Linked DNA regions of Homo sapiens. The protein of the gene in region 1 interacts with the protein of each later gene in a biochemical or structural test. Each region holds a gene or a part of one and is shown on either strand. Other genes may lie near its edges.

Evidence for each region.
Region 2: the proteins of BCL11A (region 1) and G3BP2 interact in a biophysical measurement, tested with the Homo sapiens proteins (one large-scale study listed by IntAct).

What each region holds. Positions count from the first base shown.
Region 1 is NC_000002.12:60,459,655-60,463,154, reverse strand, and holds part of BCL11A (BCL11 transcription factor A), read left to right. Parts: intron 1-730; coding exon 731-2,751; 3' UTR 2,752-3,500. UniProt on the Homo sapiens protein: Transcription factor. Associated with the BAF SWI/SNF chromatin remodeling complex. Binds to the 5'-TGACCA-3' sequence motif in regulatory regions of target genes, including a distal promoter of the HBG1 hemoglobin subunit gamma-1 gene.
Region 2 is NC_000004.12:75,663,412-75,666,911, reverse strand, and holds part of G3BP2 (ras GTPase-activating protein-binding protein 2), read left to right. Parts: intron 1-3,500.

The DNA of each region.
Region 1 (3,500 bases):
AAAATGGACGTCCCCATGGGGTGTTGTGGAACCAAAATTGGGACTCACTGATCCTCCCACAGTCTGGGGTGTGAGAATGTTGCTAGTCTTTTTTCCACGGAAGTATTTTATGAGTACCCTCTCATTTTAACAATATCAACAATTAGTGTGTTTCAGGCTAATGCTGAAAGCATCTTTAGGGCCATAGAACATTGTAGTGAGTTGACCTTCTTCCCCTTTTTTGATACCTCTATGAAATGTTTGCCTATTTAGAAAGTTCACCTGTCACCCAGGGGGGAATAGAAAGCTGGGATTTAGGAAGCCAAAAAGTTTCCTTGGGTCACCTTGTCCAAGTTTCTCACTTAACAAGGAGGAAACAGAGGCACATGGAGATGAGATGGCTTGCCCCAAACTACAGCTGATGGAACTGGAAAGTTTAGAAGACATTTGTTGAGGTGCCTAGAATGTAGGGACCTTCATCCTCAAGCCAGAACTGGTCAGGATTTTTCTGCTTTGGGGATTGGATATAAAATTTCTAGAACTGAGTTTAATGGCAGGAAGATCAATTGGACCAATATTTACTGGGTACCCATGCTCAGACGTGCCAGGCACAGGGGGTAGGTCAGTGAGGGCTTAGGCCTTGGGGTTGAGGGGTGGGGGCAGGGAAGGCTGGAGGTGGAACATAAATAAGCAATTGCTGATGCCCGCCTCAGTGATTAAACATTGATGTTGGTGTTGTATTATTTTGCAGGTAAAGATGAGCCCAGCAGCTACACATGTACAACTTGCAAACAGCCATTCACCAGTGCATGGTTTCTCTTGCAACACGCACAGAACACTCATGGATTAAGAATCTACTTAGAAAGCGAACACGGAAGTCCCCTGACCCCGCGGGTTGGTATCCCTTCAGGACTAGGTGCAGAATGTCCTTCCCAGCCACCTCTCCATGGGATTCATATTGCAGACAATAACCCCTTTAACCTGCTAAGAATACCAGGATCAGTATCGAGAGAGGCTTCCGGCCTGGCAGAAGGGCGCTTTCCACCCACTCCCCCCCTGTTTAGTCCACCACCGAGACATCACTTGGACCCCCACCGCATAGAGCGCCTGGGGGCGGAAGAGATGGCCCTGGCCACCCATCACCCGAGTGCCTTTGACAGGGTGCTGCGGTTGAATCCAATGGCTATGGAGCCTCCCGCCATGGATTTCTCTAGGAGACTTAGAGAGCTGGCAGGGAACACGTCTAGCCCACCGCTGTCCCCAGGCCGGCCCAGCCCTATGCAAAGGTTACTGCAACCATTCCAGCCAGGTAGCAAGCCGCCCTTCCTGGCGACGCCCCCCCTCCCTCCTCTGCAATCCGCCCCTCCTCCCTCCCAGCCCCCGGTCAAGTCCAAGTCATGCGAGTTCTGCGGCAAGACGTTCAAATTTCAGAGCAACCTGGTGGTGCACCGGCGCAGCCACACGGGCGAGAAGCCCTACAAGTGCAACCTGTGCGACCACGCGTGCACCCAGGCCAGCAAGCTGAAGCGCCACATGAAGACGCACATGCACAAATCGTCCCCCATGACGGTCAAGTCCGACGACGGTCTCTCCACCGCCAGCTCCCCGGAACCCGGCACCAGCGACTTGGTGGGCAGCGCCAGCAGCGCGCTCAAGTCCGTGGTGGCCAAGTTCAAGAGCGAGAACGACCCCAACCTGATCCCGGAGAACGGGGACGAGGAGGAAGAGGAGGACGACGAGGAAGAGGAAGAAGAGGAGGAAGAGGAGGAGGAGGAGCTGACGGAGAGCGAGAGGGTGGACTACGGCTTCGGGCTGAGCCTGGAGGCGGCGCGCCACCACGAGAACAGCTCGCGGGGCGCGGTCGTGGGCGTGGGCGACGAGAGCCGCGCCCTGCCCGACGTCATGCAGGGCATGGTGCTCAGCTCCATGCAGCACTTCAGCGAGGCCTTCCACCAGGTCCTGGGCGAGAAGCATAAGCGCGGCCACCTGGCCGAGGCCGAGGGCCACAGGGACACTTGCGACGAAGACTCGGTGGCCGGCGAGTCGGACCGCATAGACGATGGCACTGTTAATGGCCGCGGCTGCTCCCCGGGCGAGTCGGCCTCGGGGGGCCTGTCCAAAAAGCTGCTGCTGGGCAGCCCCAGCTCGCTGAGCCCCTTCTCTAAGCGCATCAAGCTCGAGAAGGAGTTCGACCTGCCCCCGGCCGCGATGCCCAACACGGAGAACGTGTACTCGCAGTGGCTCGCCGGCTACGCGGCCTCCAGGCAGCTCAAAGATCCCTTCCTTAGCTTCGGAGACTCCAGACAATCGCCTTTTGCCTCCTCGTCGGAGCACTCCTCGGAGAACGGGAGTTTGCGCTTCTCCACACCGCCCGGGGAGCTGGACGGAGGGATCTCGGGGCGCAGCGGCACGGGAAGTGGAGGGAGCACGCCCCATATTAGTGGTCCGGGCCCGGGCAGGCCCAGCTCAAAAGAGGGCAGACGCAGCGACACTTGTGAGTACTGTGGGAAAGTCTTCAAGAACTGTAGCAATCTCACTGTCCACAGGAGAAGCCACACGGGCGAAAGGCCTTATAAATGCGAGCTGTGCAACTATGCCTGTGCCCAGAGTAGCAAGCTCACCAGGCACATGAAAACGCATGGCCAGGTGGGGAAGGACGTTTACAAATGTGAAATTTGTAAGATGCCTTTTAGCGTGTACAGTACCCTGGAGAAACACATGAAAAAATGGCACAGTGATCGAGTGTTGAATAATGATATAAAAACTGAATAGAGGTATATTAATACCCCTCCCTCACTCCCACCTGACACCCCCTTTTTCACCACTCCCCTTCCCCATCGCCCTCCAGCCCCACTCCCTGTAGGATTTTTTTCTAGTCCCATGTGATTTAAACAAACAAACAAACAAACAGAAGTAACGAAGCTAAGAATATGAGAGTGCTTGTCACCAGCACACCTGTTTTTTTTCTTTTTCTTTTTCTTTTTTCTTTTTCCTTTTTTTTTTTTTTCCTTTATGTTCTCACCGTTTGAATGCATGATCTGTATGGGGCAATACTATTGCATTTTACGCAAACTTTGAGCCTTTCTCTTGTGCAATAATTTACATGTTGTGTATGTTTTTTTTTAAACTTAGACAGCATGTATGGTATGTTATGGCTATTTTAAATTGTCCCTAATTCGTTGCTGAGCAAACATGTTGCTGTTTCCAGTTCCGTTCTGAGAGAAAAAGAGAGAGAGAGAGAAAAAGACCATGCTGCATACATTCTGTAATACATATCATGTACAGTTTTATTTTATAACGTGAGGAGGAAAAACAGTCTTTGGATTAACCCTCTATAGACAGAATAGATAGCACTGAAAAAAAATCTCTATGAGCTAAATGTCTGTCTCTAAAGGGTTAAATGTATCAATTGGAAAGGAAGAAAAAAGGCCTTGAATTGACAAATTAACAGAAAAACAGAACAAGTTTATTCTATCATTTGGTTTTAAAATATGAGTGCCTTGGATCTATTAAAACCACAT
Region 2 (3,500 bases), on another chromosome or scaffold:
TCATGAGTTTTTCATGGCCATGGATAAGATAGTTGAAACCTTTTACTCCCATATTCAGAATTTTGTTTCGTTTTGTTAACTTTTTTTAAGAAATGGAAGGTCCCAGATCTAGAAATGGATTACCTGTAAGATGATTTGCTATGAATAATAAAAATGGCACAATTCTTTCTTCTTGTAATCACTTTTATTCTGAAAGTGTAATTTGGCTTTTTTCCTTTTTCTCAACCTTCTTACGTACACTGCATGAATTATAAATACGAACTTTATATTACTTACTCAATTTTCATAGTCTTATTTCCTGCAATACCCAAACCACGTTGTTTGATGGTTGATCTCTAGTAGTCATTTTCTGGTTGATTTCTATCAATTATATTTTGGCTCTCTAAATTCTGAGTCACTTCAAATCGGAGTTATGGTTAAAGAAGTAACTGATGTAATTAGTTGAAACACTGTTCTCTCAGTAAATCTTGATTTTGTTTTACCATTCCTTTGGGAGCCTCCTCTGCACCTTAAAAGCTCAGCTTTCTATATAACCTGTTATATGCCTGTTTAGATTTTACCAGATTAGCATTGCCTTACTTATTTACCATTTGAAGTTAACTTTTCAAGTTACTGCCTTCCAATAGTTCTAAGTATTAATTTATTGAGTATTGATTAATCAAATATTACTTCTACTGCCCTTCCCTGTCTCTCTGTTCTAAATTGATGGTATGTTGGCCATTATACTTCAGTGACCATGTAGATAGTGGGCAATTTGAAGCTTTTTTTGAACCTTGTTACAACAAATCTTTAGAGCATTTTGACCTGTGATATTATATATGTATTATGTACCATTTTATTTTGGTTTGAGAAACAAATATGTAAGTGACAAAAATGATAGATCAGTATGTACTCTATGAATATGATGGGAAATTTGGGATAAATGACAACAGTGTTCCTGTAGAAAATCTGGAAATCCAGAGAGAAGAAAACAATTCCCAAACCCGGAAATTCCTAATAGTATTTCTGTCACTATCAATTTAAAGAAAACTATTTTGTGTATAGTTATTTTGTTCAGAGAGTAATGTAGTATTTTCCCATGTGTTAGTATTATTTTACCATCAGTTTTTATGGTGTTAAAATACATATAATTTCCATGTTTTAGTTATCTTGTTAAATTTTACCAGGTAAGTCTACTGTTCTTTACCCACCCTCATTATTCAAAATAAAAATGTTAGTTGCTTAGCTGTGTGTGTGTGTGTGTGTGTGTGTGTGTTTGTTTGTGTGTTTGTGTGTGTGTGTGTGTTTGTGTGTTTGTGACTACAGGTGTGCACCACCATGTCTGGCTAATTTTAGATGGGGTTTTGCCTTGTTGCCCAGGCTGGTCTTCAGCTCCTAAGCTCAAGCAGTCTGCCCACTTCGACGTCCCAAAGTGCTGGGATTACAGGCGTGAGCCACAGCCCAGTGCTTTGTTACTTTAAATGTAGCATATGTGAGTCCTTTTTGCACTAGGGTTGTTACCCTTATTGGGAGTTTTAAGTTTTCTGGAAAATCAATGACACCTGAAATGGCAGTATTTGGATCTGCTCTTTGTGAATTAACTATTTTTGAAAGCAAGTGAGGCATTATAAAAAATTTTAAACAGATTTGGGGATTTTTGTAAATCAAGTTTGAGAGTTTAAGAAGGACAGTTAGAGGAGGGATAGTTTGTTGGAAAGGAAGAAACAAGGAACCTAAAAACATAATGTAGAAGTTGAATTGTGAGTCACTAGAATTATGTAAAGCTACACTCTATCTGTAAGCTCTACTATAGTTGGTATTTGATTTTTATTAAAAACAGCATCACAATTTTAATGACCTATGCAGGGCTGTCTCTGAAATTGTTTTAGTTATTTAAAGTAAACACACATGGAAATTGACTTTTTATTTTTAATTTTTTGTATAGAGATGGGGTCTCTCTGTTGGCCAGGCTGGTCTTGAACTCCTGGCCTCAAGCTTTCCTGCCACCTCCACCTCCCAAAGTGCTGGGATTACAGGCATGATCCACTGTGCCAGCCTGCAGTGTTTTTTTGTCTGTTTGTTTTGAGACAGAGTCTTACTCAGTTGCCCAGGCTGGAGTGCAGTGGTGTGATCGCGGCTCACTGCAACCTTTGTCCCCCAGGTTAAAGTGATTTTTTGTGCCTCAGTCTCCTGAGTAGCTGAGATTACAGGTGTGTGCCATCAGCTCTGCTAATTATTTGTATTTTTAGTAGAGATGGGGTTTCACCATCTTGGTCAGGCTGGTCTCGAACTCCTGATCTCAAATGATCCTCCCAGCTCAACCTGAAGTTTAAGCAGGACTTTATTTATTTATTGAGATGGAGCCTCACTCTGTTGTTGCCCAGGCTGCAGTGCAGAGGCATGATCTTGGCCCACTACAAACTCTGCCTCCTGGGATCAAGCGATTCTCCTGCCTCAGCTTCCCAAGTAGCTGGGACTACAGGCGCCAGCCACCACGCCTGGCAAATTTTTGTATTTTACTAGAGAAGGGGTTTTACCATTTTGGCCAGGCTGGTCTCGAACTCCTGACCTCAGGCGATCTGCCCACCTTGGCCTCCTGAAGTGCTGGGATTACAGGCGTCAGCCACCGCACCTGGCTAAGCAGGAATTTCAACTGCATCCTGATTTACCCAGTAGATACATGCTTAGGAATTATGATTTTTTTTTTTTAGTACTTTTAAGTTTAATAGGTCTTTTTAAAATAAAACAGGTGGCTGGGCACGGTGGCTCACGCCTGTAATCCCAGCACTTTGGGAGGCTGAGGCAGGTGGATCACGAGGTCAGGAGTTCAAGACCAGTCTGGCTAACATGGTGAAACCCCGTCTCTACTAATAATACAAAAATTAGCCAGGTGTGGTGACACGTGCCTGTAGTCCCAGCTACTCGGGAGGCTGAGGCAAGAGAATTGCTCTGCCGGGAGGCAGAGGTTGCAGTGAGCCAAGATCGTACCACTGGACTCCAGCCTGGGCAACAGAGCAAGACTCCATCTCAAAAATAAAATAGGTTATATTTCATATTTTTATTTTTTATTTTTTTGAGACGAGTCTCGCTCTGTCGCCCAGGCTGGAGTGCACTGGCGCGATCTTGGTTCACTGCAACCTCCGCCTCCCGGGTTCAAGCAATTCTCTGCCTCAGCCTCCGGAGTGGCTGGGATTACAGGCACCCACCACCACACCTGGCTAATTTTTTTATTTTTAGTAGAGATGGGGTTTCACCATCTTGGCCAGGCTGGTCTTGAACTCCTGCCCTTGTGATCCACCCGCCTTGCCTCCCAAAGTGCTGGGATTACAGGTGTGAGCCACCGTACCTGGCCCTGGGGATTATATTCCTACAGTAAATGATAAGTTTTGTTTGTGGCTCACACCTGAAGTGAGAGGATCACTTGAGGCCAGGAGTTCGAGACCAGTCAGGGCATTGTAGCCAGACCTCGTCTCTGCTAAAAATAAAAATTAAAAAATTTAAAAAAATTAGCCAGGTGCATG